Regions from separate parts of the Homo sapiens genome. Here region 2 is reported to be linked to region 1. The links are microRNA targets in miRTarBase. Many come from high-throughput screens and were not tested one by one. Region 1 holds a microRNA gene; the other region holds the end of a gene's coding sequence.

Evidence for each region. The annotated mature microRNA hsa-miR-4655-5p reads CACCGGGGAUGGCAGAGGGUCG and lies in region 1 at 1,174-1,195, shown strand. An mRNA with a match to its seed (bases 2 to 7 or 8) in the 3' UTR can be bound and repressed. Matches are read on the target gene's strand: a 7mer-m8 pairs with bases 2 to 8, a 7mer-A1 pairs with bases 2 to 7 and ends in A, and an 8mer does both.
Region 2: the mRNA of TMEM86B is a reported target of hsa-miR-4655-5p. Seed matches in the 3' UTR shown: 7mer-m8 at 2,481-2,487.

The regions. Positions count from the first base shown.
Region 1 is chr7:1,842,029-1,845,417 of GRCh38, reverse strand. It overlaps MIR4655 (microRNA 4655), which reads left to right and starts at 1,165; the gene lies at 1,165-1,238. The region is part of intron 18 of MAD1L1 (mitotic arrest deficient 1 like 1); the gene reads left to right. The region is part of intron 1 of LOC100127955 (a long non-coding RNA gene); the gene reads right to left.
Region 2 is chr19:55,224,488-55,227,876 of GRCh38, forward strand. TMEM86B (transmembrane protein 86B) reads right to left here. Exons shown (of 3, transcript NM_173804.5): 3 at 2,151-3,076. The coding sequence ends at 2,694. Among named protein-coding and RNA genes, the nearest start is that of TMEM86B, 2.6 kb to the right of the region's middle.

The DNA.
Region 1 (3,389 bases):
CGCGTGTCTGCTTGTTTCCGAGCTGCTGTTTGTGGTTTGAGTCCCCATGCAGGGCAGCGGAGGGAGGTGGCAAGGGCTGTAACACACCAAGGTCAGAGCCGCCGGCCTCTCCCACATTGACATTCTGTGCACTGCCTGTGTGTGATCAAGTCTCCCTCCGGAGCGCTGGGCCCTGCGTCAGCCTCAGGAAAGCTACAGACAAGATAGGAATCATGCGTCTCCCCACCCTGAGCCCAGCAGGCTGTGCCAGGTGTCAAGTAGCTGGTCAGCGTATCAGCCACACAGCATTGCTAGGAGGGAAGAGGAGACCCCTTCGCTCTGCTCTCCCCGCTGCAGTCAGGGCCTGCCTCCCGCGCCCGCCAGGTGGGGCCTTGGCTGCACAGACCCTGTGCCCACTGTGAGTCCAGGAGCCTCGGGCTCAGGCCCCTCCTCCCCGCACCCCTGTCCTCCTTCTGATGGCGGGACAGTGACCCTGGCTGTGCCCACTCACTGACCAGCAGCATACTGTCTCCGTCCTGGCAGCAGCTGTGCGAGGCAGGCTTTCCTGTCCCACTCGCAGAGGAGGACACGCTCAGGTGCTGGAGTGGCTTGCACGGTACGGCCACAGCCCTGCTGACTGTACCCACGCGCCCCTCCACCCCTGCAGGAGCATCGAAGGATCGGATGCAACCAGACGGGTCCCCTCTGTCAGTGCCCGGCCTGTGCCAAGCCACAGCAGGATGTCCTGGGGGAAGCCTGGAGAAAGGAGTGCTGGGCCCTGGACTCCCCCCAGCTTTGGGGGGATGGTCACCAAGGGGAGGTGCTGGGCACGTGGCAGCCTCGGGGAGCACCTTCCTGGGCCAGCTGTAGGCCCGTCCCAAGCTGCGTCCCCTGCCTGCGCCTCTCCCTGGGCCGCCTCTGCCCCCTGCAGGGCTCCGTGTCAAGCTCCTTCAGCGGGGTGGGACCTCGAATGCCGTCCATGTCCCACACCTCGCGTGTCAGGGTCTGCAGTGGAGCACCCAACCGGCGTCTCTCCCCAGGTCTCCCCCCAGCCTGGAGGTGGCCCCTTGTGCCCCTGGGCCCCTACCTGTCCAGCAGCAGCAGCTGGGGCTCCCTGTCCACTGGGAGTGCTTCCTCAAGCATGAGGTTTTGGCAGGGGGGCCTGTGGGACCACCACACTTCTCCCCAAGGGCACACCGGGGATGGCAGAGGGTCGTGGGAAAGTGTTGACCCTCGTCAGGTCCCCGGGGAGCCCCTGGCAGGCCGTTCTGTGGCTGGATGTGAGTTAAGCGGTTCAGCCGTGTGTGAGGCTCCGTGACACCAGCCAGGACACACCTGGAGTTGTGGGGATTTTTAGTTGCCTTCTGGTGGTAGTGAAACCGTGCAGCCTTGCACAAGTGTTCCTGCATAGGCTCCACTTGCTGCCCTTCCCGGCCCCACTCACATCCTGAGTGTGTGCTCAGGCCCCTCAGAAGAAACCAAACTTCTGAGTGTCCCCTCCCCGCCCCTAGCCATGGAGTGGCCGTGGCTGAAGTGGAAGAGATTCAGAGGCTGACAGCCGAGGGGAGGTTTGAACCTCACTAAAATCATTCGGAGCTCACGCTCGTTTCAGCATTGCCCACGCTGTCTGGGTAGGAGGTGAATTCGCCTCCACGTGGCCTGCCGTGGGGCTTCTTCTTGCAGCGGGCTCTCCTGGGTGCTCCAGGAAGACGGAGCTGGGACAAAGTGTGCCCACTCCAGAAGTGAGTCTTCAGCTCAGGTCTCCTCCCGGCCTTGGTTTCTGACTCCTTCGTGTTAGGAAGGAGGCCCCCAGGAGGAAGCACGCACTTTGGCAATGAGACGTTTTAATTGCATCTTAAAATAGCATTGCAGTAAAGAACACTAAACCGTGACTAACCAATTGCACTTCAGGAGGCCCTCAGCACAGTCAGACACGGGGAAGCGCGGAAAAGCTGCCCACTTGTGGACGCCCATCAAGCCCCCTCAGGAGGGGCTGGATGACAGAGGAGGTCTACACCGCACCTGGGCCCCTTCCCCAGGTTCAGCCTTCATTGCGGCCTCCCTGGCCGTGAGGGACGTCTGCGCAGGAGCTCCCCGGGGCCAGCTTTGCCTGAATGTGGAAGATGGAGGGAAGAGTGTTACCGTTTAGTTGATTTACTGCCGAAGAACCTGTAAGGCCCAGGAAGACAGAGAAAGACGCCAGAAAGAGCATCATTCTGCAGGGTTCAAGGTGAACCTGGCTCGCTTTCAGAGGAGTAGGGCAACGAGGGCACCCAGACCCTAATTACACAGGATCCCGGCACTGTGCCATCGGGGCCTCATGTGTGGTCTTGGTGGAGAATGACCAGGGCTGCTCTCTAGCCCCCGTCCTCCAGATGGTCCCCAGAGGGACTGACACACTCAAGGAATGTGCTACTGGGAAGCCAGGATGCCATTTCAGTACCAGCAGCCCCACTGTGGGCCTCACTTGAAGGCTGTGCTGGAGCCCGGCCTCGGACTCACCCCAGCCAGCCCCTGAGCTCCAGGCAGTGTACCCTCCCCATCCGGGAACCAGCCGCAAGGCAGCCCGTGTGCTGAGCCACAGGGAGGGCCAGCTGGGCGAGGGGCTGACATGTGGGACGCAGCTGTGCAGCACTCAGAGGCCCTGCCCACCCTCCCCTCCAGGACACAGCCTGACCGTGCCCTGGGCCTCGGCTGCCTTGCAGGGGCCCAGGTGAGGAGTGGGAGGTGGAGGCCTCTGCAGCTGCAGGCAGTAGCTACTCAGTAAATGATGGGCCCAGCGATGGACGAAGGACGAAGGCCTCCCTCGGGGACCTGAAGAAGCATAGCTGTCTGTCCCTCGCCGGGGCTCAGGTGGCTGCAGTTACTCAGCTCGCCTGGGACAGGCCTGGGGGGCCAGTGAGCACGCGGCATTGTGGCAGCTCAGGCAGGCATGCGCCGGAAGGGATTCTGGCGGCCTGTGGACTGGGAGAACCTTTCCAGCTGCCAAGAGTTGCCCTTTGGATCCTAAGTGCAGGGCCAAGCCCGGCTGTGACGGCTGAGGCCGGGCTCCTGGAGGCAAGGCCACCTCAGGCCTCCAGGGCCGGAGCCGCAGGGAGCTGCTGGGTTTCCACAGGGCCACGGGGGCTGCGGCCACACGGAGCGGGAGCACAGGTGGGAAGGGTGTCTGTGAAAAGTGAAATCTGTCGCCGCTTCCTCTGGCTTAATTACCGGCATGGTAGTTGCAGAGTTGAAATGCAGCTTTAAAAGCCTTTGTGAGTAGTTAGTGTCAAACACACAAGATCTACAAAGCCATAAACTCACAGCTTGGTGATATTACCAAGTACTAATTAAGAAAAAAAAAGAAAATTCCCTTTCATGATCAAATTTTCAGCCCTGCCAAAGACGAAAAACAAGGCAATTTGCAGCGG
Region 2 (3,389 bases), not on the chromosome of region 1:
GGGAAGATGGAGCCGGCGTTTTGCCCCTTGCCCCAGGTCTGGGTCCCGGCAGGGCTGGAAGGAGCCTGAGAGGGATGTGCGCAGCACCTCCGAGAGTCCCGCTTTAGAGAAACACGAATCAGATCATGAGAAAGCAGACCTCTGAGAAGTCAGATGAAAGGTCGTCGGGGGACCAGAATCAGGGAGGAGGGACACGACGCTGGGGCTGCTGGATGCCGACAGGAGAGCAGCGTCCCGTCGCTCTGGACTGCCGACCCCACAGAGCCCAGGGACCAAAAGCCAGAATGTTCCCCAAACACCAGGGATTATGGGCCCAGCCCCTCCTCCCTCAGACTCAAGAGTCCAGGCCCCCAGCCCCTCCTCCCACAGACTCAGGAGTCCAGCCCCTCCTCTCCCAGACCCAGGAGTTCGGGCCCCCAGGCCCTCCTCCCTCAGACTCAGGAGTCCAGACCCCAGCCCCTCCTCCCTCAGACGCAGGAGTCCAGGCCCCCAGCCCCTCCTCCCTCAGACCCAGGCCCCCAGCCCCTCCTCCCCCAGACCCAGAAGTCCAGGTCCCCAGCCCCTCCTCCCTCAGACTCAGGAGTCCAGACCCCCAGCCCCTCCTCCCTCAGACCCAGGAGTCCAGACCCCCAGCCCCTCCTCCCTCAGACTCAGGAGTCCAGGCCCAGCCCCTCCTCCCTCAGACTCAGGAGTCCAGGCCCAGCCCCTCCTCCCTCAGACTCAGGAGTCCAGGCCCCCAGCTCCTCCCTCAGACTCAGGGGTCCAGGCCCCAGTCCCTCCTCCCTCAGACTCAGAAGTCCAGGGCCCCAGCCCCTCCTCCCTCAGACCCAGGAGTCCAGGTTCCAGCCCCTCCTCCCTCACCTCCAGGAACCCCTCATGTCTGCAGGCCCCACGTGCCCCTGGAATCTGCACACCCAGACCCCCGTCCCTCCTGCTACACTTCACTGCGCAATTTCCTCTTTCCCCACCTTTCGCCAGGTCTGAGTGGAGAGGGTAGGAGATGAGGAGGAAGTGGAGGTTTCGAACCTGAGTCCAATCCTTCAGATCCTCCTCATGCCTGACCCTTCCTCAAGGAAATCCCTCAGCTTCCACTTCTCCTCACTCCAACTGTGGATTCCTGTCCTCACTTTCCTTCCTGGTCCCCGTCCTCCAGGCTCCCCACCTTCCCTTCCCACCTCTGTACTCTCACATCTGAGTCCCTAAATGCAGGTCATGGATGGAGAAGTCACCTCTCTGCTGTAAGAGTCCCTAAATGCTGGCCATGGATGGAGAAGTCCCCTCTCTGTCGTAAGAGTCCCTAAATGCAGGTCATGGATGGAGAAGTCACCTCTGCTCTAAGAGTCCCTAAATGCAGGTCATGGATAGAGAGGTCGCCTCTCTGCTGTAAGAGTCTCTAAATGCTAACCATGGATGGAGAAGTCGCCCCTCTGCTATGAGTCACTGAAAGCACATCATGGATGCAGAAGTCAAATAGGGTCTTGGAGAGCAGCTTGGACCCTGTCAAGTCTTCAGATGCAGAATCTGAGGACCTGAGGGATAGCAGCTTGCCGAGGTCACACAGCCTTGACAAGGAGCACAGCTGGGTTCCTCCTTCCCATTTGATTCCTACCCCCTTGCCGCCCTCCCTCCTCCAAGACCCCTCATCCTCAAGCCTCCCACCCTTCTCCCGATACTGCATGTGACTGCAGCGGGTTGTATCCCCTAGAAAGATATGTCCAAGTCCTAACCCCAGATACCTCTGCAGGTGACACTACTTGGAAATAGGGGCTTTGCAGACATACTTAAGGATCTTGAGATAGAATCACCCTGGGTTTAGGGTGGGCCCTAAATCCAATGACCTGTGTCCCTAGAAGGATGCGGACACAGAGGGAGGCTGCCAGTTGAAGACAGTCACATGAAGACGGAGAGACACAGCCACAGGCCGATGGAAGCCAGGGATTCCCGGGAGCCTCCAGAAGCCGAGAGGGCAAGGACGGATTCTTCCCTGGAGCCTCAAGAGGGACCATGGGCCGGAAAACACCCGGATTTTGGACTTTGGGTCTCCAGAACTGCAGGAGAGTCCATTCATCTTGTTTCAAAGCATCTGGCTTGGGGTAATTTGTGACAGCAGCCTCAGGAAACTAACACAAAGACCAAACAGTCCTCTTGGCTCAGTTCTGCACAATCCTCACTTTATCCCCCCGAATCCCCCCACCAGAGGGCCATGGAGGGTCCCACTGGGCACCAGGCCTGGTCCATGGGGAGCGACAAAGAACCTTCTGCTGTCATTAACCGCGATGGTTTATCACAATCATGACCCTCCCCGAGGCCTCTCCTACGGTAACAGCAACATCTACGGTTCCACACCCACAGGGAAAACGGATTCAGAGCAGCAGCAGGGGGCGGGCAGGCTGTGGGGCCGACAGTGAACATGGAGGCAGGCTGGTGGCTGGGAGGGCTCCATGTGGGCCTGGCTGAGGAGCCAGGGATCTGGAGTCAGAACCGGGGGAAGGCAGCTGGAACCCAGTAGTGGACTTGGAATTCCGCAAATCGTCCTCAAACGTCTTCAGCCAGAAGCGACGGCGGCAGCGGCGCCTGCAGACAGGCGTCAGGAAGCTTCGCTGCTGAGGGTATTTCTCAGGCTGGGCTGGGCTGGGAGGCCCAGGTCCTTGCAGGAGGAGAGGGCCTGAACACCGGCCCTTCAAGCTCCCTAGTCAGTCAGTCTTGGGCACCGGGCTCCTGAGGGCTGACAGTGTGATGAGGAGCTGGGCAGCATAGTAGGTGGTCATGATCACCAGGTGGGCATGGGGCAGGGGCTGGGCGAAGGTGTCCCAGGCCAGCACGCCATCAGAGAGCGTGAAGAGCAGCGCGCCCCAGCCGGCACTCCCGCCCTGGGCCAGGCCGCGCCACAGCATGGCCATCAGGATCAGCCCATAGGCTGCCACCGGCAGGACCATATCCGGCTCGAGGTGCTGGAGCACAAGGCTGAGGTAGGGGCCAGGGGCCAGGATGATGAGCAGCAGCAGGCCGGGCTGCAGGGGAGAGAAGCCGAAGGCCCAGACGTAGAGGAGGTGGGCGGTGGCAAAGGCGGCCATGCCTGGCGGGAGAGGGGTGGGGTACCAGTGAGGAAGGCCCATCCTGGGAATGGCCCCGAGGTCACCCCTCAGGGCCTAAGAGAAGGACCATCCCAGAGCACCAGGCCCCACCCTGGCCGAGCCTCCTTGCAGGTCTCCCCACATGCAGTGTCCATCCTTGCTCTGCTCAGAACTGCCAGGAGGCCCCACCTTCCCTTGGCCTCCAAAGCCCCATGGCCTCCAGCTCTCCAGCCACTCTGCGCCAGCCACCCTGGCCTGCTGGGCTACAAGCACCTGACACGTCCCTGCCCCGGAGCCTTTACACTCGCCCTTCCT